5 linked regions of the Homo sapiens genome follow. The gene in region 4 interacts genetically with the main gene of each other region. Each region holds a gene or a part of one and is shown on either strand. Other genes may lie near its edges.

Evidence for each region.
Region 1: changes in ERBB2 (region 4) and TOP1 together harm fitness more than expected from each alone (negative genetic interaction), as found in Homo sapiens cells (one large-scale study listed by BioGRID).
Region 2: changes in ERBB2 (region 4) and CAMK2G together harm fitness more than expected from each alone (negative genetic interaction), as found in Homo sapiens cells (one large-scale study listed by BioGRID).
Region 3: changes in ERBB2 (region 4) and GRK2 together harm fitness less than expected from each alone (positive genetic interaction), as found in Homo sapiens cells (one large-scale study listed by BioGRID).
Region 5: changes in ERBB2 (region 4) and CDC25A together harm fitness more than expected from each alone (negative genetic interaction), as found in Homo sapiens cells (one large-scale study listed by BioGRID).

Annotation. Positions count from the first base shown.
Region 1 is NC_000020.11:41,118,466-41,124,602, forward strand, and holds the end of TOP1 (DNA topoisomerase 1), read left to right. Parts: intron 1-3,230; coding exon 3,231-3,325; intron 3,326-3,540; coding exon 3,541-3,690; intron 3,691-4,729; coding exon 4,730-4,832; 3' UTR 4,833-6,022; downstream 6,023-6,137. UniProt on the Homo sapiens protein: Releases the supercoiling and torsional tension of DNA introduced during the DNA replication and transcription by transiently cleaving and rejoining one strand of the DNA duplex.
Region 2 is NC_000010.11:73,813,818-73,819,954, forward strand, and holds part of CAMK2G (calcium/calmodulin-dependent protein kinase type II subunit gamma), read right to left. Parts: intron 5,829-6,137; coding exon 5,715-5,828; intron 5,079-5,714; exon of another isoform or gene 4,451-5,078; coding exon of another isoform or gene 4,392-4,450; intron 3,738-4,391; coding exon 3,662-3,737; intron 3,301-3,661; coding exon 3,206-3,300; coding exon of another isoform or gene 2,892-3,205; exon of another isoform or gene 2,050-2,891; intron 1,431-2,049; coding exon 1,198-1,430; 3' UTR 1,186-1,197; intron 689-1,185; coding exon of another isoform or gene 627-688; 3' UTR 1-626.
Region 3 is NC_000011.10:67,268,016-67,274,152, reverse strand, and holds part of GRK2 (beta-adrenergic receptor kinase 1), read right to left. Parts: intron 1-6,137. UniProt on the Homo sapiens protein: Specifically phosphorylates the agonist-occupied form of the beta-adrenergic and closely related receptors, probably inducing a desensitization of them. Key regulator of LPAR1 signaling.
Region 4 is NC_000017.11:39,712,114-39,718,250, reverse strand, and holds part of ERBB2 (receptor tyrosine-protein kinase erbB-2 isoform a precursor), read right to left. Parts: intron 5,930-6,137; coding exon 5,803-5,929; intron 5,099-5,802; coding exon of another isoform or gene 4,982-5,098; intron 2,966-4,981; coding exon 2,892-2,965; intron 2,806-2,891; coding exon 2,715-2,805; intron 2,533-2,714; coding exon of another isoform or gene 2,512-2,532; coding exon 2,312-2,511; intron 1,981-2,311; coding exon of another isoform or gene 1,951-1,980; coding exon 1,818-1,950; intron 1,737-1,817; coding exon 1,646-1,736; intron 1,185-1,645; coding exon of another isoform or gene 1,083-1,184; intron 932-1,082; coding exon 771-931; coding exon of another isoform or gene 767-770; exon of another isoform or gene 594-766; intron 1-593. UniProt on the Homo sapiens protein: Protein tyrosine kinase that is part of several cell surface receptor complexes, but that apparently needs a coreceptor for ligand binding. Essential component of a neuregulin-receptor complex, although neuregulins do not interact with it alone.
Region 5 is NC_000003.12:48,166,269-48,172,405, forward strand, and holds part of CDC25A (M-phase inducer phosphatase 1), read right to left. Parts: intron 1,677-6,137; coding exon 1,578-1,676; intron 1-1,577. UniProt on the Homo sapiens protein: Tyrosine protein phosphatase which functions as a dosage-dependent inducer of mitotic progression. Directly dephosphorylates CDK1 and stimulates its kinase activity. Also dephosphorylates CDK2 in complex with cyclin-E, in vitro.

The sequences.
Region 1 (6,137 bases), on a different chromosome or scaffold from region 4:
TGAATATCAGAGTATCCATTATTCAAGAAATCTTTATTCTACGCATAGAAGTTCTATACTGGCCACTCCCTATTTTGAAAAACTAACTTTGGTGTACATTCTAATTGCTAATTACTGTCCTTATTGTACATGAGGAAAGTGGATTTAAAGAGAGTCTTCATAATTCCTTGCTACAGCCCAGAAATACAGCCATTTCCAAATTAGATTGTTTCAAATTGAAAAGATGATGAAACAATTATATATTTAAAGTCTTTCAAATCCTAGCATAGCTATTTTTATTTTTACGCATTCCACATGAATCATATTTTTATATAGTTCATCATCAAACATCTGTTGAATACTGGCCGTGTGCCAGACAACTTGCTGCCCTAAAGGGAAAGACTGGTGTGCAAATAGGTGCTATTCCTTGTCCCTGAGCCTCTTTCCTCCTCCTAACTCCGCCTGGTACTGAGCTTTTAAACCATAAGGCACTTAACATTTGATGATGAACATTTTTGTGTTAGCAGTGACTTCATAACTAATTCATCCTAACATGGTGGTCCACAGTGAGAATTTGCAGATATTTCATTATAGAACAGATACACAGGGTTAAAAAGGAAACAAATTATATTGAAATACAGTTATCAAAATACATTTTAAAGTCCGATAATAGATGTGCTTCCTTATTAAGGTCTTGAGGTGGCCTGTAGTAAATTTCAAGGTAGTAATTAATTAATATCAATGATACTTTAAGATTTCTGCAGCAATTCAAATATGAAATGAAGATGTCTAACATCTATTGATGATAAAGTCATAAGTGCTGCTGCTATTACTATGGTTTGTTCCCCATATTCATAACTGAAGAAGAAATACTAAATTTCAGCTAGAAGCTGGGTGCAGTGGCTCACACCTGTAATCTCAGCATTTTGGGAGGTTGAGGTGGGAGAATCACTTGAGCTGAGTAATTCAAGACCAACCTGGGCAACATAGTGAGACCCTGTCTGTATTAAAAATTTAAAAATAAATATAAATAAGTTCCAAAAAGAGGTTATTGAAATTATAGATTTTTTCTCATCCAAGTTCATGGAATTCTATACTTGTACAACTGGAGTTTAAGAACTACTACTGTGGAATGAGACTGCATTTTAAGGCCCAGAATATTTTCCATTTGTTGAGATTTCCTTAAGATAAGTACCCATGAGTAATATAGCTGGTTCAAAAGGTACACACAACTTATAATTTATGCTACAGATGCCATCTGGCTTTCTTGAAGAGACGTACATGTCCACAGTGAATGAGTATACATCCATAGACCTTTGATTCCTTGGATCATATGATTGGCAGGCAAAGAACTCTATAGACGGCCCATCCTAGCAGCTCACATTTGCTGCCACTCTGTTAAATGCTGGTCATCTGGAATTGTTTATTCTCCTCATGTTATCATTACAAGCCAGAAATAAAAGCATGAATATTCAGGTGCTGTTTACCTAATTCAGGAAAACCCCTCCCAGGAGCATGAGGAGGTCTTTTGTTGCTCTCGCTCTGGAACCGGGTTTGGGCAGCCCAGGCTGCCTGCCAGATGAGCCCTCCAAACCCAGGATTCCTCTCCTGTGTGCCCACAAAGCAAACACACGCCCCTGTTTGCCAAGTGAATCAATGGAGTCTTTGATGCTTTGAGAGAATTTGACATAGCCTGCCAATTTAGCATTCACAGAAATGGTTAAAAGATCATGGTTTGCTACATTTCTATCCTAAAAAGAATCTGGCTAGTGGTGTCTGTGATGCTTTTGTATATAGAATCAGTCCCCTCAGTTTGGCTTTGGACAACATAGATGTTGGAAGTAAGCCATTCATAGTAAAACATATTTAGTGATCCTCTCACAATGGTGGCCTCTGTTTCCAATCTTGGGCTGTGTGTATCTAACAACAAACAATTCCAGGTTCAGTGAGCAGCCCAGTGTGTGTCAGACATGTTATTTACTCCGTAGAGGTTGTCTTCACCTCACATAGATGACCATAGGTATGGGGTTCTCCTGCCCTCTGAGTAGCGTGAGCTCAGTGACAGGGGCTCTAGCTCCATGTTGTTATCCACTGCTGTCTCTAAGCAGGAATCTGAGAAGAACTTAGATTCACCAGGGGTGCTTCAAAGATTCTAACAAGCAAGAAAGGCTGAAACTGCCCTTGTCTCTTCCCTTATAGATATGGATTCCATGAGAGTTCACATGGGGAAAAAAGCTCCACAGCTAAAAGTGTTTTCACATCCATTGAGTGACAACTAAGGTCCTTCCCACCTCAGACTTCTCTCCTTTTTTTTTGAGACGGAGTCTCGCTCTGTTGCCCAGGCTGGAGTGCAGGGGCATGATCTCGGCTCACTGCAAGCTCTGCCTCCCGGGTTCATGCCATTCTACTGCCTCAGCCTCCCGAGTAGCTGGGACTACAGGCACCCACCACCACGCCTGGCTAATTTTTTGTATTTTTAGTAGAGACGGGGTTTCACCGTGTTAGCCAGGATGGTCTTGATCTCCTGACCTTGTGATCCGCCCTCCTCAGCCTCCCCAAAGTGCTGGGATTACAGGCGTGAGACACCGCGCCTGGTGACCGCTCTCCTTTTAAAAACAGAATGCCAAAGCTAAGCCCTGCCATGTCCTGGTTTGGGACAGACTGGCTGAGCTGTTTGGCTTCCTGGGTGTCTTTTAATTGCCAGTTTGTAGCCCCTTGAGTACTCTCTTCAGTGCATCCATTTTCCTTGAGAAGCTGGCACCGCCTTCCCAGAGTACTGGTGGGATCTGAGGAACGAGCTGGGGTTGCCCAGTAGATGCAAGTATCCTGCTTCAGTTTCCTAAAGAGGAGCTCCTACAGTGTTCTTAGAATGAAAGCTAAGAACTGGCACAGGATCTATTTGATAAACAGCTGTCATTTGTAGCCATCCTCCCAGATGTATGACAGCAGAGTGTTCTCTGATGGAAAGATCAGCACCCAGATTCCCAGCCCCAGCGGGTTCCTTTCCCTGAGCCCCTAGGTTACTGCCCTGTAAAACCCTTGTTTCTTTCCAGATCACTGAAGAACAAATAGTTGAATTCACTAGTCCTTGTGCATCTTCTCCCTGCCTTCATGAAGCCACCCTTGTTTTTTTTTATCTGACAAACCACTGACAGAGACAGCCTGGTCCAGATAACATCTTGGTTTCACCTTCTCAGGTGGAGCCATTTTTCCTCTACAGCTCATAACCTTACCACTATTATTTCCCCTAGATTGATGCCAAGAAGGAACAGCTAGCAGATGCCCGGAGAGACCTGAAAAGTGCTAAGGCTGATGCCAAGGTCATGAAGGATGCAAAGACGAAGAAGTATGTACCTGGTATTGTGAAAGTTGGGGCTGGTAGAGAAAAGTGTGCAGCATCTGTCAGGGCCCCTGGGGCCCTGGCTTTTCGATGGTTTCTGAGAAATGTCTTTTGGAAATCTCTATACTAGGGCTTTTATTGACTCAAAGTGGCAGGATGGGTACAGTGTGCTCTTGTCTAGAGCCCAGGCCTGGTTCTTGAGGACTTTGCTATTCTTCTAGGGTAGTAGAGTCAAAGAAGAAGGCTGTTCAGAGACTGGAGGAACAGTTGATGAAGCTGGAAGTTCAAGCCACAGACCGAGAGGAAAATAAACAGATTGCCCTGGGAACCTCCAAACTCAATTATCTGGACCCTAGGATCACAGTGGCTTGGTAAGTGTTGAGCCCTCCTTGAGCTCCTGCTGCTAGCTTAAGAAAGGTGGAGGGGGTTCCGAGAGCACTGGTGGCCTTCACATGCCATTCCTAAGCTACACACTTTAGTCCTCTGGGGAAACTTCTGGCTTCAGCTGTGTACAAGTTACTCTGGTTGCTGAACCTTGTCTGTAAATGCATTGCAACATTCTGGTTGCTCCTAAATGGTCAGTGCTGTTACACTGCCTTGTAGTGTATATTTTTAAGAGGCAGGTGCCATCCCTATTCCTAATGGAACTTTAGGACAGGAATGGAAACTCTTAGCTTCTGGAAGAATAGGAAAGAGCCCATCCATCTCTACACTTCAACAAAACTTTTCGTTGAATTTTTTTGCAGTTGAAGGTAGGAACAAGAGATAAAGATGAGAATACAGATCTGAGCAACTTACACAGAGAGGCAGAGGGACCTTTAACAAAAGCAGATAAATACTAGGTTTCTCTGTGTGTCACACACAGTGTCACATAACATCTGAAACAAGTGGCTTTGTTATGGAAGATGTTTAGTTTGAGCTGTTAAGTTCTGAGCATAGGTGGAGATATCCTCCCCTATGGCACTTGCTAGTCCGGGCTAAAGTTTCCATCTAGGTCTTTTGTACCTCTTTCTGCTCGTTTTGCCTTGTTTGGTGCTAGAGATTTGGTTAGCTCTTAAAAGGCAATATAGTATAGTGGTTAAGAACATGGAGAAAAACTGCTTGGGTTCAAATTTCAGGTCACTTACCAGCTAGCTGTGTGAGAAAATCAGTAAATTACCTAACGTCTCTGCCTCAGTTTCATCTGTACGTTTTTCACTTGTACATCTGCAGAAGCACCTACTTTAGAGATCACTGCCAAGATTAAATGAGTTGATCACATAAAACCTTTAGAACATGCTTGGTGCACTATTAATTTGCATCCTCACTAGACAGATGTGAAAGAGAAGATGGAACATCTGACCCTGGGCCTCAGATATGGGCCATTGCTGAGTCACCCTAATCCCCCCCTTATTTCTCCTTTGTTTGCAGGTGCAAGAAGTGGGGTGTCCCAATTGAGAAGATTTACAACAAAACCCAGCGGGAGAAGTTTGCCTGGGCCATTGACATGGCTGATGAAGACTATGAGTTTTAGCCAGTCTCAAGAGGCAGAGTTCTGTGAAGAGGAACAGTGTGGTTTGGGAAAGATGGATAAACTGAGCCTCACTTGCCCTCGTGCCTGGGGGAGAGAGGCAGCAAGTCTTAACAAACCAACATCTTTGCGAAAAGATAAACCTGGAGATATTATAAGGGAGAGCTGAGCCAGTTGTCCTATGGACAACTTATTTAAAAATATTTCAGATATCAAAATTCTAGCTGTATGATTTGTTTTGAATTTTGTTTTTATTTTCAAGAGGGCAAGTGGATGGGAATTTGTCAGCGTTCTACCAGGCAAATTCACTGTTTCACTGAAATGTTTGGATTCTCTTAGCTACTGTATGCAAAGTCCGATTATATTGGTGCGTTTTTACAGTTAGGGTTTTGCAATAACTTCTATATTTTAATAGAAATAAATTCCTAAACTCCCTTCCCTCTCTCCCATTTCAGGAATTTAAAATTAAGTAGAACAAAAAACCCAGCGCACCTGTTAGAGTCGTCACTCTCTATTGTCATGGGGATCAATTTTCATTAAACTTGAAGCAGTCGTGGCTTTGGCAGTGTTTTGGTTCAGACACCTGTTCACAGAAAAAGCATGATGGGAAAATATTTCCTGACTTGAGTGTTCCTTTTTAAATGTGAATTTTTATTTCTTTTTAATTATTTTAAAATATTTAAACCTTTTTCTTGATCTTAAAGATCGTGTAGATTGGGGTTGGGGAGGGATGAAGGGCGAGTGAATCTAAGGATAATGAAATAATCAGTGACTGAAACCATTTTCCCATCATCCTTTGTTCTGAGCATTCGCTGTACCCTTTAAGATATCCATCTTTTTCTTTTTAACCCTAATCTTTCACTTGAAAGATTTTATTGTATAAAAAGTTTCACAGGTCAATAAACTTAGAGGAAAATGAGTATTTGGTCCAAAAAAAGGAAAAATAATCAAGATTTTAGGGCTTTTATTTTTTCTTTTGTAATTGTGTAAAAAATGGAAAAAAACATAAAAAGCAGAATTTTAATGTGAAGACATTTTTTGCTATAATCATTAGTTTTAGAGGCATTGTTAGTTTAGTGTGTGTGCAGAGTCCATTTCCCACATCTTTCCTCAAGTATCTTCTATTTTTATCATGAATTCCCTTTTAATCAACTGTAGGTTATTTAAAATAAATTCCTACAACTTAATGGAAACTTAAGTGTCTGCCTCTTTGTTACAAAGGGCCTCAGGCCAGAGTTGGGGCTGGGACTTAGTGTGGGATGAGGTCTCACCACTCAGGTCAGCAAGAGTAGATTCCTCCCAGGAGCA
Region 2 (6,137 bases), on a different chromosome or scaffold from region 4:
CACTTCTGCAGCACCAATTCTCTTCCCTTCTACACTAAACAAGACAGTACAGCAACGTCCGGGCTCTCAGTCCTGAGGCCACCACTTCTCAGCTGCCTCCACAGCAGGCTGGGAGCTCTGCGTTCTCTCCCAAGTAGGTCTGATGGTCACGATGTTCTCATCAGCCCCATTCTAGGCGCCTATGCAAGTTCCAAAGAAGTTCATTCCTAGACCTGGGGTAAGCAGGCCACCTCAGGAGCTGCAATCACATCACGGCCCCCAAAGCTCTGTCAGAGTTCTTGCCTGGTCCCCCTAAGTCCATGGGGACCAGAGAGGCCAAGCTCACCTCTTCAAGGCCGGTGGGTGAGCCACTGCTCATGCCAGGATGGACCTCATACATACTCCTGCCTTCTTGCCAACCCAAGGGCTGTCGGTGGTTTTAAAACGCATCATGGTATGGATTCCTTTTTTTTTTAAACAATCTTTTTTTCTTTTTTTTTTTTCTTAAATGTAAAAAACACCTCGGTACAGCAGAGACAGACACGAAGGGCGGGCGGGAGGGCTGCATGCAGGGGCGTGCATTGGCTGCTGCCGCTTTTGTAATTGAATTGTTTTAAACCTCAAACAAACAGGACTGCCGCTGTCACTCAGGCCCTCCAGAGCCACTGGCTGCGAAGGTTGGACCTCCGGCTGGAATCTCCTAAAGCCCCTGTCAAACAGGACAGAATGTGGTAACAGAACAGAGGACAATGAGCACACAGATGAGTTCCAGCGACTTTAGCACGCTAAACACATGGCCAAGTCGGCCTGAGAAGGTGGGGAAAGTGGGTGAAGCTAATGCTTAAATACAAAACTGCCTCCCATTTGCTAAGCACTAACTAAGTGCTTTACTTATAGTATCTTACTTAATCCTCACAATGATTAAATGAGGTAGGCACCACTCTCTGCCTTTCTTTGACAGCTAAGGAAACAGTTTAGGGAGGGGAAGTAACCTGTCTGAGGTCATCCAATTTGGAGTCACGGAGCCAGACCCTAGTCTGTCTGATTTCCAAGCATAACTTATTGCAACCATTCTGCCAGGCTTTGCCAGTCCTCTGGGACGGCCCACACCTCCTCTCCCAGGACCACCTCCCAGCCTTCTCTTCTTCCTCTGACCCCACCTATCCCAGGCCCTTCCAGCCCCTCTCCCCCGTCAACCAGGTGCACCTGTGGCTGAGCTCACTGCAGCGGTGCGGCAGGGGCCCCTGAGCAGTGATAGTGGACATTGAGCCACTTGCCATCCCGACGGTGCCAGACCCGGGTCTCTTCTGACTGGCTGGTGCGAGGCCGACCCTGCCCGTCGATGTACTGGGTGAGGCGGATGTAGGCGATGCACGCTGCGTCCTCCCCAATCACGTGGACGTGTGGGTTTAGGATGGTGGTATGGATAGGCTTGCTGTTCTTGGACAGGACTGCAGGGCAGGGTGGGGTAGGTAAGAGGACATCAGGCCTGGGCACCTGCATTTTCCTCCCAGCCTGCACTTCCAAGTCTTACCATCTCCCAAGCAACCACTCCCAGAATCTCCAAGTACCGCCCCCCCCCACCCCCGAACCCCTGAACGCCCTCCAGAGGCCAGGATGCCACATTACATTAGTCTCCTTTATCCAAAAGGAACAGAAAGATGGGTAACAGTGACAGTACCTGCTGCGCTTTTAATCAGGCATTGTGCTGGGGTTTTACATGCCCGAGCTGTATTTCTTGGTGGATAATATTTTCTTCATTATAAGATGAGGAAATAGGCTCAAGGAATAATTTGCTCAAATCACACACCTGAACTCAGGACCATGTGACTCTTAACTAAAGCCTATAGATTTTCTATTCTGTTAGGCTGAGTTTAGATTTCATAAGGCTTGGCTCACCCCTAGCTAGGGCTGCAGAACAAAATCATGAACTTAAACCATTCAAAATTGATTTGTAATTTTTTTTAAGGCACCAAAGCTGAAATAGAATCATCAAAGCACCAAGCTCAGGATATTCCCAGGATTCTCTGGGGAAAAGGCAAAAGAAGTTGGATTGCCATTATCAGCATATGCTGTGAAAACTGTGTTGCTTTTATTGAGATTCACATTTTAGTTCAATTCAAATGTTAGACAGGGGCTACATGACACCTTCCTAGTACTAATATAAACTCTGGAATTGCTTCTGGCTAATAGAATTACTTAGATAACAGAGAGTTTATATATGTAGCTGAGATGTGATAAGGGTGGGAGCCAGCGGAGAAGTTAGTGACTAACTATAACTCAGGGCAGGATAGGGAAGGCCCAGCATAAAGTGGGAAGAGATAAAAATAAGGAAGGGGAGGGTCTCATAGAGCAGAGAGAAAGATGGGAGGGGGTGATGATTCAGCTTCTTATCCCCTTATTTTCCATGAACTGTCCAGAATGTACACCCCACCCCCTATACAAGACGTCTGCCTTCCTCCATAGTCAGGAAGATTCTAGCCACAACTTCCGATCTCGCAAATCACCAACAGTGCCCTGGTTTGCACATTCTTATCCTGGTTTTAATTTCCTCTATTGTGAAACCTGCAGACACAGAGCTTAGTTCTTATGTGCTGAGATCATCTCAACCTAATCTCAAAGGGTTTCCTTCCAATCCGTCTTGGAAAGAGGTGAGGCTTAAATAATTTTTTCTTTTTTTTTGAGATGGAGTCTTGCTCTGTTGCCCAGGCTGGAGTGCAGTGGCCTGATCTTGGCTCACTGCAAGCTCTGCCTCCCAGGTTCACATCATTCTCCTGCCTCAGCCACCCGAGTAGCTGGGACTACAGGCACCGCCACCACGCCCGGCTAATTTTTTGTATTTTTAGTAGAGATGGGGTTTCACCGTGTTAGCCAGGATGGCCTCGATCTCCTGACCTCGTGATCCGCCAGCCTCAGCCTCCCAAAGTGTTGGGATTACAGGCGTAAGCCACCGCGCCCGGCAAGAAATAAGTGAGCTTGATTGTGGTGACTGGCACTGCCACAAAGCAGCTGCAGAATGAATGGCACTTGGAGCTCAGGAGCAGGGCCTTCAAAGGTGCCTGTCTACAACCATCGGGGCACAAGGGGACAAGCATACAGAGTAGGAGTGCAGCACGAAGGTCAAATAAGGGAAAAGTGGGCAACTGGGATGAGAAGGTGAGCAGGAGACAGAGACAAAGGGGTAAAGGGGCAGGCAGGAGTATATCAGCAGCACGAACCCACTCACGATTCTCAAAGTAAAACTTATGGAAATCCATCCCCTCCACGAGGTTACCAAGGGCCTCAGGCTCAAAGGAAGTGAGGCCTGGATCACAAATCTTCCTACAGGGAGAAAAAAAAAAGCAGCCTATCAGGCTTCTATGGAGTGACTTGTCTTCCTTCCTTATCAGCGGTGTCTATCCAGTAGCAGCAGGCTACCTGTGGCCATGCCAGACAAGACAGCAAAGATCTTCCAGGCCTGCCTGCTGAGCCACTCAGCCCTGTGCTTTCGGCCCACTGCCAGGATACCATGGGTGAGCTCAGGGAATCTACCTGGAAGGGCTCCCAGTTTAGGAGAGGGCTTAACTCAGATACTTTGCCCAAGGTCCAACCTCCCTTTCCCCAGGGTCCTAATTGTTGTCTGGAAGCAGGGAAGGCCTTGGGAGATGACTTAGGTCACAAAAAAAAATGGGTCTCTACTTACGTGTAGGCCTCAAAGTCCCCATTGTTGATGGCTTCAATCAGCTGTTCTGTAATCTTAATGATCTCCTGTTTTCGCACTGTGGGGGAGAAAAATCCATCAATTTACCTACTGGGGAACCTCCCAAGTTACAGAGAGCCCTCCCCAGTCCTCAGGAGTCCCCTGTGATCGCTTATGACAAAGACATCCCTCTTCTCTGTCTCTAGGGCCCTTGGCAGGAAGAGCGAACACACCTTCCCTCCCGTCTCCCTCTCTGCAGTCTGCAGAGACAATGACCACTTTCTCCTGAAGCCCAGCCATTAGTTATGGTTCTTTGGCCTTTGCCTCCCTTTCCATCAACAACCAGGTTGCAGAAAACACGCTTGCCTTTAACAGGTGAGGAGCCTGGTACATCGTGAATGCTGTGAGCCCCTCCCCTGTATGAGCAGCCTCTCTCACAAGCATCTCCCAATAAGGCCGCTTCCACCCCCAATTTACTTCTCTCACCTGAAGGGGCTCAGTCAGGTCTCAATCACCACCCCCACTCGTAGCCCTCATTCAGTGGCCAGGACCCAGCCCTGGGTGACAGGTAGCCTGACAGCAGAATCCAGCTAGGGCTGGGGTGCCAAAGGACCATCAGAACCCTAGGATGGATGCTTCCCACTGCTCAACTCCACAGGGCTTTTCTGGGAGAAATGATCCCAGAACTGTAAAAACTTGGGACAGCCTGTACCAGAGAGGCTGCTCCATTTACCTCTCGAGGCTTGGGAAAGCTGCACATTTCACACCAGCTCTCATTGCCAGGACGTGTTCCTCAGGAAAACCAGACAGGGCTCAGACTGACAGGCAGGCAGAGGTGGTGCCCTCCAGAGGCCTCCTCCCCAACCCATCCAAAGCCAAGGGACAGCTGGTGATGTCCTGCCGGCATGGGCTTCTCTTATAGGGAATGCCACTACCAGCAGGGGCTGCCACCAGGGTAAGGGAGAGCTTGGGTTGAGCTTGGGCTCATCCTAACCCGAGCCCTGGGCGGGGCCAGGCCACAACCCTTTCCTCACAGGAGCAAAAGGCTGCAAGACAACTGCAAGCGTTAGAACAGCACCACCACGGCCCAGCCGGGCCAGCACAGCCAAGCAGCACAGTTGGGACAGGGCAGCGCAGCCAAAGGCACATCCAGGAGGGGGCCCCACAGCCGTCAGCCCCGCTAGGCCACAGCTCCAGGTGAGCAAGCAGCAGGTTAAGGGAAGCAAGGAGTTCGATCGGCTTCCAAAAGCAGCAGGCAGGTGTGCACCCACAACACACACACCCTCTCCAACCCCACCAGACCCATCTGGATGACCTGACTGGGGCCCCACGGGCGAAGAGGGTTGTGCTTAGAAACTCTGCAAGGATAGATGGTGGGAGGAAAAGCAGCAGACAAAGGCATCCTCCAGCACAGACGTAACTAGAAATATGAGGATGAGCTACTGATAACCCATCGAGGCACCGTATCAAGACTTCCTACTGCCTTGTCTTTTATCTAACAAGGCTCTGAGGTGCGTGCCATTTTATTTCCACATTACAGATAAGGAACCTGCAGCTCTGGGAGGTTAAACTTCACACTCTTGAAGGCAGTGTAGCTGGGATTTAAACTCAGATCTATCTTGCCTCTGACCCCATGCTCTTAATACTGTTATGCTGAGACTCAGGAAGCACTACATCCCCAACACAGTTCCTCGCTGTCACGATTTCCCCATCATCCCACTCCCACCCCCACAGACCTGACTTCCGACTCTGCCCTTCTTCCTGGCTCAGCGCTGAGGCAAGGCCCACTGCACATCCTGGGGGCTTTCTACTCCCCTCATCCCAGGCCATGTTTTTCCACCCACACTTCTCATATTTCTTTGGGCCCCAGACTCAGGGGCCCCTGCCTGGTCTCAACAGCACCTCCAGTCTACCCCCCACCCCCAGCAGAGGCCATGCTCCCAGAGCTTACTACCACGGGCAGGTGGGTGGGACTGACAGCTGTGGTGGGGGTCCCTGAGGGGCTTCAGGACGAGCCAGGGAGACGGAAGCCAGAATGTGCCTCCCTCACACTTACTGGCTGAGGAGCAGAGAGAAGGCTGGGGCTGCATGCCTGCAGAGGGGGCTGTTCTGTCCCGGGAGCTCCGTCCTTCAGGCACCGAGCTGCCATTCCCAGTGCGGAGCGGGGCAGCTAGCCAGCCAGGGCAGGGCAGGGCAGGGCAAGGCAGAGCAGCCAAAACAAACAGAACAAGGCAGGTGAGCGAGCAAGCCAGACAGGCCCCGAGCCCATGGCGCTGCAGAGCCGGGGCAAGGGGACGCCTCGCCTCAGGCTGCTGTGGACACTGGACGACATCCCACGCCGCCGCCTCTGCCAGAGAGGCCTCCCAGCTGAGGGCACCAGGCAGGTGCCCAGACCTGGGCTGTGGCTTCCAGACGAGCCTTACAACAGCCTGTCCAAGGACCCCTGATCCCGGGGAAGATGTTCCAGGGGGCCAGGCCA
Region 3 (6,137 bases), on a different chromosome or scaffold from region 4:
TAGTCCCAGCTACTCAGGAGACTGAGGCAGAAGAATCGCTTGAACCCTGGAGACAGAGGTTGCAGTGAGCCAAAATCGTGCCACTGCACTCCAGCCTGGGTGACAGAGTGAGACTCTGTCTCAAAAAAAAAAAAAAAAAAAAAGGTGCCAGTTTGGCAGAGGGAATGGCCACCTAGGAGCCAGGGAGTAGCCACTGCCACTTTTCAACTGGACACACAAAGTCTCCAAGGGGGAAGCATGCTTGGTTCCCTGCCTGCGACAGCCAGGGGAACCTGCCGGGCAGGCCCTTTCTCCTTCCCAGGGGCTCTGCTGTCAGCCCCGGCCTGGGAACAGCAGGAAGCAGGACCCGGGGCTCTGAGGCCATCTCTCCCCTCAGCAGCCACGCCTGGGCATGGCCACCACATTCTTCCCAGCCCACAGCACTCCACTTTCTTCCTTAAAAAGAAAAAAATGTTTTTTAAATAAAATAAACAACCCCCCTCCCCCCAAGCAAGAAACCAAACACGAGGTCAGGCCTGAGCAGAGTCCTTGAATGGAAGGCCCCCAAAGTGGCAATTTTAGGGTTTCCTGTCTATTCCCATGGGTCTGGCCGCCAAGGGAACTGGCAGGTTGGAAGAACTTGCCACTGGGGGCAGCTCCTGCCAGGGTGGCAAGCACGGGCGAGCACAGGGGTGGGACAGCCTCCTGGACTGGGTCACCTTGTCTCCAACACTGCTCCCTGATACTGGCAGAGTCTGGAGTGGCAGTGAGCCCAGAGCGTGTCCCTGTCCCCCACCCAGGTCAGCAACCCTGAGATCCGGGGGAACGTGGCTCCCAAGATCTACTCTGGAGCATCAGGAGAACCAAGCGGCCTCAACAGTCCCAGATGGAAGGACGCTAAGGTTCCCAACACCTTTGGGCAAGGGCCTCAGAGTTGCCTTTGCTCTGGCCGTTGGACGGGTGCCTGGGTTCCAAGTGGCCCTCACCACCTGGTCACAAACTTGAAATGTCCAGTTTCCCCAGCTGTAAAATGAGGATGTCAATGAGATGCTGAATCGCCACCGTCACACTGGCCATTTACAAAGCCTGGGTGGACACGGCAGAAGGAGGGCTTCTAATATGCCAGGCTGGCCATGCTGCCCGCCGTGCCCCGCCTGCTGGGCCATGGGAGAGAGCCGCCAGAGCCCCATTTCTCAGTGCCCCACGGCTCACCGACAGTCCATGCTAGAATCACACAGTAACTGGTCTTGCTCAAGCCTCTGCTCCACATTTGCCGTGTCCTCGGAGAGGATGGGGCCTTGGAGGATGGGGCCTGTGGCCAGGGCTGAGCCGAGCAGGGTGGGACTCCTCTGCTCACAGACCAGCTTCAGGCACTGCATTGCTCTACTGCGGGCCCAGTGGGTAGAGCCCGTGGCTTGCCCTGCCAAAGTATCAAGGGCTCCTTGGCACAGAGGTACTTGGTGCCCACCCAGCTTTGGGAAGGAGCAGTCAGTCCCACCTTGGCACCCCTGCAGTTACAGCGGCCTGCACCAGCTCCTACTGCTCCCGGAGCAGGCTCAGCCCAAGACAGTGAGCAGCTGCAGCACTGAGCACTGGGTGACAGGGAAGGAGTGGGTGCTGAGGGAGCACTTCCGGTCCCTTCTGGCACCTCATGGTTCAGAAGAAATGCAAAGTCCAGGCCATCCTCTGTGGCCTGGGCTCTCTTAGGTGTCTCCTGCTCGGGGTCAGAGGCTGTAGCTGTGTGGACAGGAGGGGGTGACAAGTCAGAGACAAACACACTCTTGCTGATGGCAAGGAAGCTGGCTGGGCCACGTGCTCCGAGGCCCACAATGAGTTCGTGGCAAAGAAAATGTCCAAAGGCTCCCTGAGAAACGGCCTCCACTAGAGCACCCTCCATCCCCCCCTTGACCTCTGTGGAAGAGCTGGGTGCAGGGCTCAGAGGACCCTGACTTGTGCCCAGCCTCTGGCCTGGCTGCCCTCCCGTCCCTGACCAGGAGCTGTAGGAGACGAGCAGCCCCCTTCCCTGGAACCCAGGATGGGAGGCAGCCTTGGCTGGCAGCTGGCAGCCAGGGGCCATGCTTCCTGTGCCCCTCATGTGACAGTGATGCTAAAGCTTTGCCACGCCAGGACGGTGCAAGCTGGCATGAAGGCTACAGGCCTGGCAGGTCTGGTGCGGCCACTCTGGGAACCGTCCCCTGGGAGATGAGCGAGCATTCACCAACCAGTGCAGCAGGGCCTGTGGCTGTGGCCGAGGTGCTCCCTGTGGCATTTCCAGGAAACCAGACACCAAGGTGCCAGCAGCAGAAGGAAGTCCCCTGGGGCTTCTTAATGTTTCTCAATGACTCTCCCTGGGGCGAACAAGGACGGGGCCACAGATCAAATAGGAAAGGCCAGCCCAAACCGGCAGGTCCAAGGTAAGCCCTGAGCAGGGGAGAGAAAAAGCCAGCTGGCCCCGCACACACAGCCAGGGTCTGCAGCAGCCTGGGCTCCGGAACGTCGTGTCGGCCACAAAGCAGCTCCCTTGCGGGGATGCTCAGGAAGAGGCACTCTGGCGGCCTTGTCAAATGTCACGGCTTCTTCACAAATATGACATGAGCACCCACACCCTGCAATTTACTGCTGACATGGAGACCGTAATCTGCATTACGCTAGAATGCACCAAGAACAAACTTCCAGAATTCCATGCCCTGTGGTTTCCAGGAGGGGGTTATCCCCCATCCCAAACACGAAATGGCTCTAGAGTCAGAAAATTGCCCCCACCTGGGAACAGAGCTGCCAACATGTTAATACCAGAAAACCCACTTCTGCCAGCATAGACGCGTCCTTTTGCAGTAAACAGCAAAGCAGAGAAGGGATATTACTGTTTTAGAAAAAAGCTGCAGTCAAACACCTCATTTTTAGTATCTCAGTTGCAGCAGAGTAGAAATAACGTGAATATAGCTCCATCCAGCAGTGGAAACTGACCCATGGGGAGCCGGCGGGGAGTAGGGAAGGGGCCCAGGAAGAAGGGGCAGGTGTGAGGGAGGCTGTGCATCCTCAAGGGCTACACTGTGCTTTTGGTTCCCACTGTGTGTTCCGAGGCAAGAGCATACCCTGAAAGCAACAGCCAAGCGCGTGGAGCCCAAACCCACCAGCCTGAGCACTCAGTCCCTCTGCCAAGCCCACCTGGGTGCAACCTAGGCACGGGGAGGAAACACTGGCTGCGGAGCGCTCCTGTACCTGACGTCACCGGGAACTTACTACTAGGAATTGATTGTGCATTAATAGGACACCTCATTCTGGGTTAACAGCCCAGGTTCCCCTGCACAGATTCCAACCTGCATTGCTCACACTCCCTTCAAATCCATTTACCCAGGTAACGGCAGGCGGGCGACTTAATGGCAAATAAGTGAAACGCATGCTCTGGAAAGGAAAACAGACGGGAAAGACATCCCAGAGACCCATTCCTGGGGAACGGCGGTGCTTCAAAGGCCCAGAGGGAGTGACTGCAGGAAAGATCATCTTGTTTGCAGGGAAAGGAGTTGGGAGAACGCTGCCACTGAAGTGGAAAGTTCTGGGTAAGGGACAAAGGCTGGAAGCAGCAGGGTTTCAGCTGGTGCTGCAGGAGTGAAGGAAGGAGGGAGGGAGAGAGCTTCCCGCTGCACCCCTTCCCCCACAAATCGAGGGCAGGAAGTTCTGGCTGCGAAGAGTTAACAGGAACGAGGCAGCGGAGGAACAGGGGCAGGGTCTGGGGAGACAGGGAAGCCAGAAAGGGGCAGGAAGGAGGAAACTCTCGGTGGGGGAGGGACCAGGAAACAGCCAAGAAATCGGGAGGCTGCAAGAGGCACCCAGCTCCGACAATCTGCTGCTGGGGCTGCCACTGTCACCGGGGAGGGCAGAGGAACCTCCTGGGAGCGCCCAGGCAGGGCTCCTCAGCTAGGAGCCCAGAGATTAATTACACGAGGCCTCAGTGGTCATATTAAGCAAATGATGATAATTACAAGACTGCTGGCTGCTGGGAAAGGGAGACAGCAGTTCCTTCAGGGCAAGGCCCAGACCACAGACCCTGAGAGTGAAGGGGCAGCCGCCTCGTTTTACAGAGGTGGAAACTGAGGCAGGTCCAGTCGGGCTAAGGGACTCGCCTGGGTCCCATGTGAGCTGGTGGTAGAGGGAGAAGCCAGACCTCCCATCTTCCAGATACACAATGCTGCCTTACGCTACCTCCTTCTACAAGAAGGTCGGGGAAAGGGACTGTTTCCTTGGATTCTATAGGGTGACAGAAGGGGAGGCCCCTGTGCCAACTCAGTGTGGCACTGTGCCTAACCACTCCCATTCCCTAGCCTTTGGAACTCAGAGCTGTGATGCCAGCCCCAGTTCTTGGCCAAGACACATCCCCAGGCACCAGCCATGGAGGGGCTGCCAAGGTGGGCCACCTCAAGGTATGAACAATTCCCAGTGGCAACCTGTCACTGGGACAAGCCACAGCCCCTCTCCCTGACTCTGACCTTGACCTTGTGGGTATGGGGAAGACAGGCTCCTGCATCTGACGGGACCCTGGAGTGGGGCTGCCCCTCGGTGCAGTAGCTTTGCCACGGCAGCTCAGTTCTCCATCCCAGCCAACGGGAAGAGGGCTGAGCCTTGTGAACTGTGACAGCCGATGGCCCCAGACAAGGGGTGCCAGTCAGCCCACACCGCAAAATGTGGACAGAGGCGAGAACAGTGGTGTGCAGGGGTGGGTGGAGGGGATAAAGCACAGCAAAGAAACAGCACTGGCCTGTGTGGTCCAGAAACCCGAGGCCCCATTCCAGCTTTCTTCTGTGACGAGGACACGACTCCTCCCCTCCCTGAGCCTCAATAACTTCAACTGCTAAAGGGGAGAATCCTAACTGCTGGGCCTGCCTCTCACAGTTGTCAAAAGGACAAAACAGAGTAAAAAGCACTCTGCAAGTGGAAAAGTGTCAGGCAAACATGAAACATGGTCAGGATCACCACTGGGGCGGCGGGGGGCGGGGGGCGGCGTGCTCTGCCCCACTGGGTGTGCAAGGCAAGGCGTTATGCAAAGGGTGGCCTGCTCCCTAATGCCCCAGGCCTGGACCCCCATGTAGGGGTGGCCAGTAGCCCTTCCCAGGCCTTAGCGCACTGACATTCGGCGCTCGCACCTCCAGTCCGTTTCACAGATGTGGGCGATTTGCGGAAGGCCATGCTGCTGATGGTGACCCAATGTGAAAACCTGGGCTGCCTGGCTCGGCCTCCTGCTGTCCTCCTAGAATCCTATCCAACCTTGTTTCTGCTCAGGACTGCATGGGGGTGCCACACAGTCCTGGTATTTCTTGAGCAACTACTACATGCAAGGCATGGCCTTGCCAGCTTCACAGGTTGGTTGCTGGAAGAACTGAGATGACAGATATCAAAATAGGTAAGTCAGTAATAATTCCTATCATTATTGCTATCACCGCCATCACTACCATGGATGGGAAAGGGGACAGGAAAAGAAGACCATCTCGTTTCTCAGGGTTCTGACACCTGCAGAGCCAAGGCGGCGCCCCATCAGAAGCAATGCATTCTGGGGGGAGATTACCCGAACGCAGACAGTTCCAGAAAAGGCCCCGCCTCACAGTTGCAGAACTCCATCCTGCAGGAGGGTCTCGAGGCTGCAGCCACCAAGGAGAGCCGTTTTGAGCCCTAGAGGCTGACTCCCCCGTTTCCTCCCTCGTGGGTTTGTCATTTCTGAACTCATTTCTGTACTAACCGTCACTGCTCCCTGGACAGCCCCCAGCTGACAGTCAGTCTGGTTCCTGTTTTGAGAAATCTGATTGCAAATGTCTTAGAAAAAAAAAGGCCCTAACGGCCTTTTCAAAATGCAGACCAATTTTCCTCTCCCAGGCCTGACGTTCAGTCAATCCAAACACCCAGTGAGCAGGGCATGGCACAGGGGGGCGGTGAGGGCCATGGGCATGGGGCACCCCTGCAGCGTCAGCCAGAGCTTAGACGGCTGCTTCAAAGGCTGAGGGACACCGCAGAGTCACAGCTCTTATTTCACGCCATCCACATTTCACAGATGAGAAGACCGAGGCCCAGTGAGGGAAGAGACTTACCCAGAGTCACAAGATAAGACCACGGCAGTGTGGACAGGCCCCATCCCCAGCCCGCTGGGGCACCAGGAGGAGGCCAACTCTCAG
Region 4 (6,137 bases):
AAATAAGAAAAATTAAAAGAATAAGGTAGATCACCATGTTAGAACATGGAAAAACATTTCAAGGTTCTGGAAAGTGAGAAAAAGCAATTTGCAAACAATATGTATGATCTATGATTCTATTTGTTAAAAAGAAATATATGACTGGGCATGGTGGCTCACCGCTGTAATCCCAACACTTTGGGGGACCGAGGCTGGCAGATCACCTGAGGTCAGGGGTTCGAGACCAGCCTGGCCAACATGGTGAAATCCTATGTACTAAAAATACAAAAATTAGCCAGGCAAGGTAGCACGTTCCCGTAATCCCAGCTACTCAGGAGGCGGAAGCAGGAGAATTGCTTAAACCCAGGAGGTGGAGGCTGCAGTGAGCCAAGATTGTACTACTGCACTCCAGCCTGGGCGACAGAGTGAAACTCCGTCTAAAAATACATATGTGTGTGTGTGTGTGTGTGTGTGTGTGTGTTAAAATGTGCACAGATAAAAATAACTGGAGAATAATATTAATATATGTTAACTTATATATACATATTAGAATGTGCACAGACAAAAATAACTAGAGGAAAAATATTTCAAATTATTAACAGTGGGGATAGAACTGCTAGGGCATTAATTTATATTTCATGTTTTAATTTTACAATTTTAACAATGTGTTATTTTTGTCATCAGAAACAAGATATGACAAAGGGAGAGTTGGTCCCCTTTTATAGTAAGAGCCCCAGAAAGACCCCTGAAAGGAAAGTCCTCCTTTCTGCAGAAAAGACCGTTGGACTCACGAGTGGGTGCAGTTGATGGGGCAAGGCTGGCATGCGCCCTCCTCATCTGGAAACTTCCAGATGGGCATGTAGGAGAGGTCAGGTTTCACACCGCTGGGGCAGCGGGCCACGCAGAAGGGAGGGTCCTTATAGTGGGCACAGGCCACACACTGGTCAGCCTCCTGGGGGGGGCAGAAAAGATTTGTGGGGGGCTGGCACTGACACCCCCAGGGCAGTAGGATCAGGCCCTTAGTTGGGTCCCCTTTGTGCTTCCCAAGGCCACCCAGCAGCAATTTTCGCCATGCTCCTGGGACAAACACCCTTGCTCTTCACCCAGTCTCTGTGGCCCCTCCCTCGGGGCCCTCCTCCAAGCTTGATCCTGGGCAGGGACTTGAGCCAGAAAATGGGAGGCACCCAGAGAGGAAAACGCATTACCTAAGGTGTAACAGCGAGTAACAACAGTCACTGCTCTGTAGAAAGCCTTTCCCGTGCTTCACTGTGCCAAGCCCTGTTTAATTTCATTCTTGCCACACCCCAGCAAGGTAGGTATTATTACAATACCCATTTTAGGAATAAAAAACCAAGGTTGGAAGCAGGAGCTGGGTCTGAATCCAGGTAGTCTGACGCCTGAGCCCACAGGGCTCACCACCCTAGCACAGCCACAGTCACAGCCACCAACACAGACCTCCTTAGAACCTTTTCATAGTCTGAAGGGCCCCAGTGTCCCCCAGGCCCCTTTTCTGCCACTCTGTTGCTGTTCAGGTCTGAGCGCTGAGCCCTCTCCAGGGATATTTTACCAGATAGCACACCCTACTGCATCTCGCCATCCTGCCAAGTCCCTGGCAATCCCCCTCGCTGCCCCCCTCCACCCAGCTCTGAGCCCGCCAGCAGCTCACCGGTCCAAAACAGGTCACTGAGCCATTCTGGGGCTGACACTCAGGGTGGCACGGCAAACAGTGCCTGGCATTCACATACTCCCTGGGGAGCCTGAGAGAAGGGACAGTGGTGAGGGGGTCTGAGAGGAGCCCCATGCACCCCTCCAGCCACCCTCTCCTCCGCCCCTCATACCCCTGCAGTACTCGGCATTCCTCCACGCACTCCTGGCCCCGAAGGAACTGGCTGCAGTTGACACACTGGGTGGGCCCTGGACCCCAGCAGTGCCCTCGGGCGCACAGCTGGTGGCAGGCCAGGCCCTCGCCCACTGCAGTGAGGAGGAAGGGACCGCAGGGGACTTTTAGGGGAGGCCCCAGGTCCAAGTGAACCAGGGAACTGGCTGTGGGCATGGCTGTGGGCTGGAGGGGTGGGGACAGGTGGGGCCGATGTAGGGAGAGGAAGAGTTCTGAGATTTCAGAAACAGAGGGGGAGGGAAGGATGCCAAGGCAGGTAGGACCCAGCTAGAGAAGCCATGCCAAGAGGCCAAGCCAGCCAGAGCTGTGCTGAGTCAAGAAGGGTGCACAGAGACGGGCAGTCTGCACAAGTCCAAGAACGCTGCTGCCAGGGCCCCCTGGGCACTGCTGTGTGCTGGCAGATGGGGAGTGCGCACACTGGGCTCCCTGTCTTACCACACTCGTCCTCTGGCCGGTTGGCAGTGTGGAGCAGAGCTTGGTGCGGGTTCCGAAAGAGCTGGTCCCAGGGCACCGTGTGCACGAAGCAGAGGTGGGTGTTATGGTGGATGAGGGCCAGTCCACTGCCCAGTTCCCTCAGTGAGCGCAGCCCCAGCCAGCTGATGCCCAGCCCTTGCAGGGTCAGCGAGTAGGCGCCACTATGGGAGAAAGGTGGGCACCTTACCACGGACCCCTTCCCGGTCAGCAAAGGCTATTCTCATCTTCCTCCATCCCCAGCACACTCTGCAGACTTTCATGGAAAGGTTACTGCTACAGGAGTACTCCCTCAGGCCCAAAGCTTCCCACAGGGACTCCTCCCTGGGACTCCTCCCCATCAGGCCCCCTCTTTCTCAGTGCTCACTTGTGCAGAATTCGTCCCCGGATTACTTGCAGGTTCTGGAAGACGCTGAGGTCAGGCAGGCTGTCCGGCCATGCTGAGATGTATAGGTAACCTGCAGGCAGAGGGTGAGATTAAAGGAGTGGGGACAGGACAAGGACTCCCAGCCCCTGCAGAACAGGATGCAGAGACAGAGCCCACCTGTGATCTCTTCCAGAGTCTCAAACACTTGGAGCTGCTCTGGCTGGAGCGGGGCAGTGTTGGAGGCTGGGTCCCTGGAGGGGTCAGGAGAGGAGTCAGCAGGGCCAGGAACAGGGTGGACATCACTCCCAGCACTGGCCATGCCAGCCACTCCCCACCATGAATGCCTTCACTCAAACCCTTTGCCCATCGAGCCCAGCTGTTCCCATCCTGGGCTTCAAAGCCCAGGCCTTAGTTCGGCAACATCTATCAAAACAGTATTTATATCCTTTGATCTAGAAATCTTATTTCTGCCTGGGCTCAGTGGCTCACGCCTGTAATCCCAGCACTTTGGGAGGCCGAGGCGGGCGGATCACGAAGTCAAGAGATGGAGACCATCCTGGCCAACATGGTGAAACCCCATCTCTACTACAAATACAAAAATTAGCTGGGTGTGGTGCCGCGCGCCTATAGTCCCAGTTACTCGAGAGGCTGAGGCAGGAGAATCACTTGAACCCGGGAGGCAGAGGTTGCAGTGAGCCGAGATCACACTACTGCACACCAGCCTGGCGATAAAGCGAGACTCTGTCTCAAAAAAAAAAAAAAAAGAAAAGAAATCTTATTTCTAGGAATGTGGCCTAGGGAGACACTGGCCCATGTTCCCAGAGCCACACACAAAGTGGAACTGTTTGTAAGAGTGAAAATGGAACATGATCTAAATGTCTATTAGTAAATAGGGGAGCTGTTAAATAAAACCCCGAGCCACCCAGCCACATAATAAAAACCAACATTTAGGAGCACCTAGTATCTGCCAGGCACTGTTCTAAGAGCTTTACAAATATTAACTCATTCAAACTTTATAATCATCTGGCCAGGCATGGTGGTATAACCATCTTATGAAGTTGGGACTGTTCTTGCCCCCACTTTACAGATGAAGAAACTGAGGCACAGCACAAGGGTCACATGCCTAGTAAGTGGTAGAGCCGGGTTTCAAACCCAGGCAGTCTGGCTCCCAAGTCTGGGCTCTTAGCTGCCTCTCCTTGCCGCCACCTGCTCTGCAGCTATTGAAAGAACAAGGCAGTTCAATGGGAACTGTCATGACCGGCTCTCAAAGCAAGGTGCAGACAGTGCTCCCTATATGTTCCCATTTACAGAAACCAACCTCCCCACCAAAACGACGAAAACCACACTTCACTGTGTGTGTGTCTACAGATGCATAAACGGTCTAGGTGAACACACACACTGTTAACCATGGCCCCCTCTGGAAAGGGGAGTGGAGGTAAAGGAAGTGTGAAAGGGAATTTTTTTTTTTTTTTTTTTTTTGAGACAGGGTCTCATTCTGTCACCCAGGCTGGAGTACAGTGACATGATTTCAACCCACTGCAACCTCCACCTCCCAGGCTCAGGTGATTCTCCCACCTCAGTCTCCCTAGTAGCTGAGACTACAGGTGCGTACCACCATGCCCGGCTAATTTTTTGTGTTTTTTTGTAGAGATGGGATCTCACTATGTTGCCCACGCTGTTCTTGAATTCCTGGGCTCAAGCAATCTTCCTGCTTCAGCCTCCCAAAGTGCTGGGATTACAGGTGTGCACCACGGCGCCTGACCCTTTTTTTTTTTTTTCTTTTTGAGACAGGGTCTCACTCTGTCGCCCAGGCTGGAGTGCAATAGCGAAATCTCAGCTCACTACAACCTCCACCTCCCGAGTTCATGCAATTCTCCTGCCTCAGCCTCCCAAGTAGCTGGGATGATAGGCGCATGCCAGGAAGCCTGGCTAATTTTTTATATTTTTTAGTAGAGATGGGGTTTCACCATGTTGGCCAGGCTGGTCTTGAACTCCTGACCTCAAGTGATCTGCCTGCCTCGGCCTCCCAAAGTGCTGGGATTACAGGCGTGAGCCACCGTGCCTGGCCCCAATTCATTTCTTATTGAAGTATAACTTATATACAATAAAATGCACCGGGTGTGGTGGCTCATGCCTGTAATCCCAGCACTTTGGGAGGCTGAGGTGGGCGGATCACGACGTCAAGAGATCGAGACCATCCTTGCCAACATGGTGAAACCCCATCTCTATTAAAAATACAAAAATTAGCTGGGCATGGTGGCACACACCTGTAGTCCCAGCTACTCAGGAGACTGAGGCAGGAGAATTGCTTGAATCCAGGAGGCAGAGGTTGCAGTGAGCCAAGATCGTACCACTGCACTCCAGCCTGCTGACAGAGTGAGACTCTATCTCAAAAAATAAAATGAAATAAATAAAATGCACAGACTCTTATCACACAGTTTGATGAGTTTTGACAAATGGATTCGCTCATGTATCCACTACCCCAATCACTATACAGAGCATTTCTATTACCCCAGAAATGTCCTTGTGTGCCTCCCTTTTGAAGCCCCCCACCCTGGGGCAACCACCGTTCTGATCTCTCCCACCACAGAGTGGTTTTTTCGGTTCAGAGCCTCACATAAAGGGGATCAGACAGTATGGAATCTTGTCTCTGGCTTCTTTTGCTCAATGTAATGTTTCTGAGATTCATTTATGTTGTATCGGTAGTTCATTTCCTTTGGTTGCTAAGTAGAACTTCACCAAATGGATACACTGCCACTTGTTTATTCCTTCACCTAGTGATGCACATTTGAGTTATTTCCAATTTGGGGATATTTTGAATAAAGCTGCTATGAACTCAAAGGGAATTTTACTTTATCTAGATGGTCTGACCTCCATACAAGTCCTTGTTCACGGATAGCATGTCATTTACAAAAATAATCACCCCCACCCACCAAAGGCCCTGCTCCTCTGGTCTCCCATCTGCTTTCTTTGCATTCTTGATCCCCCCACTTCTGTCTCCTGCCATCCCCAAGAGATGCTGCCACATCTGGATCCTCAGGACTCTGTCTGCCCTGACACTGTCTCAGGTCATCGTGCCCACTCTTACCCATCAAAGCTCTCCGGCAGAAATGCCAGGCTCCCAAAGATCTTCTTGCAGCCAGCAAACTCCTGGATATTGGCACTGGTAACTGCCCTCACCTCTCGCAAGTGCTCCATGCCCAGACCATAGCACACTGAGGAGGTGGGGGTGGGTGGGGAAGGGGCCGTCTCAGCCTTCATACCGGGACAGGTCAACAGCCACATGAGCATCAGGGTCCGGGCCCCTCCCCACACTGACAGGGGATATAGGGACACTTGTAGGGCTGAGGGGGGCCAGGGGTAGAGAGTAGAAGGCAGAGACTAGGTCCCAAGAGGGTCTGAGGAAGGATAGGACAGGGTGGG
Region 5 (6,137 bases), on a different chromosome or scaffold from region 4:
CAAGACTCCCTCTCAAAAAACAAACAAACAAACAAGCAAACAAACATTAGTTAGTACACACTAGTTACTCTTCTAGTTACTTCATTAACATCCTGACATTTAATTTTCACACAAACCAATGAGGTATATTATCCCCATTTTGAGCACCTTATCCAAGGTTACCTAGCTAGTAAGGCAGATTTAAATAAAGAAACCTCAGGTAATCTCATTTTCCTCCTGCTTTTGTCAAGAATCCACACGTCAGTAGTTAGACTGCGAATAGCACTTAAACATACAGATTTCACTCATTTACTGAGCACCTGCTATGTCCAGCATGGTGCCAGGCACTGGGGATAGGAAAAAAAGAGACCTAGCCCAGCCTTGAGGAGGAAGATGCACACATTAGCAATTACTCATTAGGGTGACTGGCTGAGCCAAGAGTTCATCTATCCCCATGCATAGGCCCATTAAGACAAATATAACCAGGCCTCAATTCAAGTTGAAAATTCCACTGAGTGTGGTGGTGCATGCCTGTAGTCCCAGCTACTTGGGAGGCTGAGGCAGGGGGAGCACTTGAGGCCATAAGTTTGAGGCTACAGTGTACTATGATAGCATGTGCGAATAGCCACTGCACTACAGCCTGAGCAACATAGTAAGACCACATCTCTCCCTGCCAAACAAGAGAAGGTTCCAAAACTGAGGATACAGCTGGATCTTTGCTTGTTCTCTTCATTCTCCGTTCCTTCAAAACCCATTTGGGCTGAAATATCAACGGCCCAACCCCAGACGTTCCCCAACCCCCTAGCCAAGATAAACCCTTTTACTTCTCACGGCATGCTGTTTATGTTTACACCTCACTAAAATTTATTTCAGTCTACCATGTGGTACATGTAGTTCACGTCTCACCTCTCCAACCACATGCTAAATTCTTTGAGGGAAGGAACTGTATCTCATTTTGGAATCTCTGCCTAACACATAAGTGCTTCAATAAATGTTAACTAAATTAATGAATAAAACATTGATCTGGTAACCTTCAAGTCAAAATGTGATTAAAGAAGCTGCTATTGACACATTCCCTGTCCTAGCCTTGTATTTTACTGCAGCCAAGCCTTCATGTAGTATATCAGGCTATTAGAAGATCTTCCTCTAGACTTCCTGGAGGGTCTTTTCCCTCAATGGCCAAGCTTCTCTGAACGGAGAAATTCAGTCTCAATCCCAGACCTTCTAAGATAACCTTTCAACATGCAGACTTGTAGTGTGGCTACAGATTTATTTCTGCTGTACACTATCCTGCTAATTACTATTTTTATAATAACACAGTTCCCAGAGAGCCTAGTCTTTGGGTTACAATCAAGGTGGTTGGTGGACAGCTCCCTACCTAAAACTGCCCATCAGCTATAGTGATATCTACAGTCTCAGAAACCAACATATACCTGATCATGAGAAACTAAGTTTGCTTCCCTACCTTTAACATTCTTTTAACTGTGTCCTTTTGGAGGTATGCCAGGAACCACCCTGGGGAGGGAGACAGGCTGAGTGGGATTCTAAATACCCACACTCCCTCCTACACTTGCCAGAGCAGCTCTGCTTGCAATTACCTTGGAGAAGTCTCCTATAAGGTCCCTTGGGTCATTGTCCAAAATGTTCTCAATGGTTCCTTTGGGGGAAGATGCCAGGGATAAAGACTGATGAAGAGTCTGTAACAAATCAAAGGTAGAGAATGAGACAAGGGTTCTGAATGGAACTTCCGAAAACATTCACTTGGAGCATGTCTCGAGGAGACTAAAATGTTAATGCCTACATTTAGTAAGAAGTTTTTATTTTATTTTATTGAATCTGGAGTGAACAAAAACAGATGTGGGTTATTGACTAGGTCTCCTATTATTCCAGTGTCTAACCGAATTGCTCTGAAACTAAGTTTTCCTTCCTTCCTTAAAAAAAAAAAAAAAAAAAGGGGGTGCAGGTGGTTTGGCTCATGCCTGTAATCCCAGCACTTTGGGAGGCCAAGGTGGGTTACTCACTTGAGCCCAGGAGTTCCAGACCAGCCTGGGCAAGGCAGGTGAATCGCTTGAGCCCAGGAGTTCCAGACCAGATCAAAGAGCAAGACCCTGTCCACACACACACACACACACACACACACACACACACACACACACACACAAGCTGGGCATGGTGGTGTGTGCCTGTAGTCCCAGCTACTTGGGAGGCTGAAGTGGGAGGATCACCTGAGCCTGGGGAGGTCGAGGCTACAGCAAGTGGTGATGGTGCCACTGCACTCCAGCCTGGGTGACAGACTGAAACTATCTCCAGAAAAAGAGAAAGAAACAAGGGGGGTTAAAACTAGGATTAAGTTTAGAAAAAGTATGTCTTAACTTTTTTTTTTTTTTTTTTTTAAAAAGACAGAGTCTCGCTCTGTCGCTCAGGCTGGAGTGCAGTGGAGTACAGGAGTGGAGTGCAGGCTGGAGTACAGTGATCTTGGCTCACTGTAACCTCTGCCTCCCAGGTTCAAGCGATTCTGCCGCAGCCTCCAGAGCAGCTGAGACTATAGGTGTGCGCCACCACGCCCAGCTAATTTTTGTATTTTTAGTAGAGACGGGGTTTCACCATGTTGGCCAGATGGTCTTGAACTCCTGGCCTCAGGTGATCTGCCTGCCTTGGCCTCCCAAAGTGCTGGGATTACAGGTGTGAGCCACCGCGCCCGGCCTACGTCTTAGCTTTATTCAATGAGAAGAGGAAGCCAGCTGTTAAAAAGGGGATAATTTGAGTAAAAGGATAATACTTGTAATACACAGAAACACATTAAATGTTTTAACCCATGAATTCCTGATTATTATTGAAAAACAACTATAAGTCTTGCTTTCAACTTTGGAAGATGCTTGGTAGGGCATTATTTGGAAACTGGCAAATAAAGAGATCCAATATTCATCCTGCCTTTCCCAAGGGTAACCACAGTGTTTGATGAGTGTAAGTTTCTCTTTATAGATATATTCTAGCTAATTAATGAGGAAAGAATGTAAAAACTGCAGTATCATCTTTCTGAAACCCTGGTGAAATGAAGTAAAAAATCTGGGCAGCAATCACCAATGGCTGCCTGGCACATTATACTTCCTGATCAAAGTAGACAAAATCACCTATGTGATATTCTTGCCAAACAAATAGAACTGGAATTCAATCCATCCTTTCCAGAGTTAGGTTAAGGCAATATAGGGGATAGAAGACAATGTCTGAAGACCCCACAGGACTGTGGGAACCTTTGCAGGACAAATGACTTGAGCTCTTCAACAAATAAAAATATGCAAGAGGGAAACAGATGGAGCACTGAAATCTGAAGAGTAAGAGACCTATTGACCAACTACAGTGTATAGACTTTATTTGGATCCAGATTTTAACAAATAAACTGTAAAAGTACTTAGGAGACAACTGGGGAAAACTGAACCCAGACTGGATATTTGACATTTGATAGTAAGAAATTTAGCTCTGCCGGGCGTGGTGGCTCATGCCTGTAATCCCAGCACTTTGGGAGGCCGAGGTGAGTGGATCACTTGATGTCAGGGGTTCGAGACCAGCCTTGCCAACATGGTGAAACCCCGTCTCTACTAAAAATATAAAAAATTAGCCAGGCGTGGTGGTGGGCGCCTGTAGTCCCAGCTACTTGGGAGGCTGAGGCGGGAGAATTGCTGGAACCTGAGAGGCGGAGGTTGCAGTGAGCAGAGATCGACCCATGGCACTCCAGTCTGGGCGACAGAGCGAGACTTGGTCTCAAAAAAAAAAACAAACAAAAAAACACCCAGAAATTTAGCCCTGTATGATATGTTTGTGTGAGGAAAACACCCCACAAACTCAAAGTGATTTTTCTTATTCCCTCACTCAACAGCAACAGAAGACAGAAGTGCTGTTACCCCCAGATATGAGGGGATTTCTCCCTACCAGCAAGCAAGCAAGCAAGCAAGCAGTTCTGCAGTGGAAAATAGCTGGGTGCCGTCCAATTCAATTCTGACACTATCTACCTGCAGAGCGTCAGATCAGGAAGTTGAGGGCCCAGTCCTCAAAACCACACCACCCTTCAGACACCAGTTGGGCCTCTGGATCTTCTGATCTACGACCACCAGCTTTAAGTAGGGGTTCCCATGACCCCTTCTTTGGGTTTAATTTGCTAGAAGTGGCTCACAGAACTCAAGAAAACACATTTACCAGTTTATTATGAAGGATATTCAAAGGATATAGAAGAAGACATGCATAGGGTGAGGTATGGGAGAAGGGACATGGAGCTGCCATGCTCTCCTTGGGTGCCCCAACCTCCAGGAACCTCCATGTGTTCAGCTATCCAGAAGCTCTCTGAACCCTGTCCTTTCAAGGTTTTAGGGAGGCTTCATTACATAGAAATGATTGATTAAACCATTGGCCATGAGTGATCAACTTGACCTTTAGCCCCTCTCCTTTCCGTAGATATTGGAGGGTGGGGCTGAAAGTTCCAACCTCTAATCATGTCTCTGTCTTTCCAGTGACCAGTCCCACCCTGAAGCTATCAATCATTAGTATACAAAAAGATATGACCTTGGATATTCCAAAGATTTTAGGAGTTATATGACAGAAGGGGAAGAAGACTAAATATATATTTCACAATATCACAGGTATGATAACTGTACTCTAGCAATGCTTGACATTTTCTCCACAATGGAATTTAAAATACTAAAAATTAAAATATATGAAAATAAACCAAAACATGAGGGCCAATATATATACAAAATAATTATTAACAGTATTATTTTATCCAAAAAAAGTTTTACAAATATGGAAATAAAAAGGTCAATCTCTATTACGGTAAAAGAAAATGAATATTCTGGCCGGGCACAGTGGCTCACACCTGTAACCCCAGCACTTTGGGAGGCCAAGGCGGATATATCACCTGAGGTCAGGAGTTCAAGACCAGCCTGGCCAACTTGGTGAAACTCCGCCTCTACTAAAAATACAAAAAAAATTAGCCAGGCGTGGCAGTGGGCACCTGTAATCCCAGCTACTCAGGAGGCTGAGGCAGAGACTTGCTTGAACTGGGGAGGCGGAGGTTGCCGTGAGCCAAGATCCTGCCACTGCACTCCAGCGTGTCTCAAAAAGAAAGAAAAAGAAAATGAATATTCTTTTTTTTTTTTTTTTGAGATGAAATCTCACTCTATCACCCAGGCTGGAGTGCAGTGGCGTGATCTCTGCTCACTGCAACCTCCATTTCCCGGGTTCAAGCGATTCTCCTGCCTCAGCCTCCTGAGCAGCTGGGATTACAGGCTCATACCACCACACCCAGCTATTTTTTGTATTTTCAGTAGAGACAGGGTTTCACCATATTGGCCAGGCTGGTATGGAACTCCTGACCTCGTGATCCACCCGCCTTGTCCTCCCAAAGTGCTGGGATTACAGGAGTGAACCACAGCACTCAGCCAGAATATTATTAAATATTGATAGATATTTTCTGACATGTATACAATGTAAAGTTTCACAAATGTTCTTGCCCTTATAACCCAGAATTTCATTTTTAATTAGAAATAAAAGGAAAATCAGGGGAAGGGAAATTCTAAATGTCCAGAAGGTGATTTATTCAATTATTTCTAGTATACTTGTAAGTCAAAACACTATCGGCCAGGTGCACTGGCCTGTGCCTGTAGTCCCAGATACTTTGGAGGCTGAGGTGGGAGGACTGCTTGAGCCCAGGAATTCAAGGCCAGCCTGGGCAACACAGTAAGACCTCTTTTCTACAAAAAATAAAAAAAAATTTTTTTTAAATTAACTGGGCATGGTGGTGCATGCCTGTAGTCCCAGCTGCTAGGGGGGCTGAGGCGGGAGGAGTGCTTGAGCCCATGGAGGCTGTACTGAGCTGTGATCGTGCTAGTGCACTCCAGCCTGAGTGACAGCGCTAGACCCTGTGCCCCCCACAAACAAAAAGAACAAAAACCAAAACCAAACAACTCTCCCAAAACAAAAATACTATGCAATTATTAAAATATTCTTTTAGAACAATACTTTAAAAACATTCATAAAGCATTAAAAACAAAAGCAGATACGATAAGGCAGTAGGCCTAAATGCTAAATGTTTTCCTAGCTGTCATCTCTCTAACCTTTTAAGACTGTGATGAGATTTACTTAAACCTTTTCATGCCACAGAAAACACA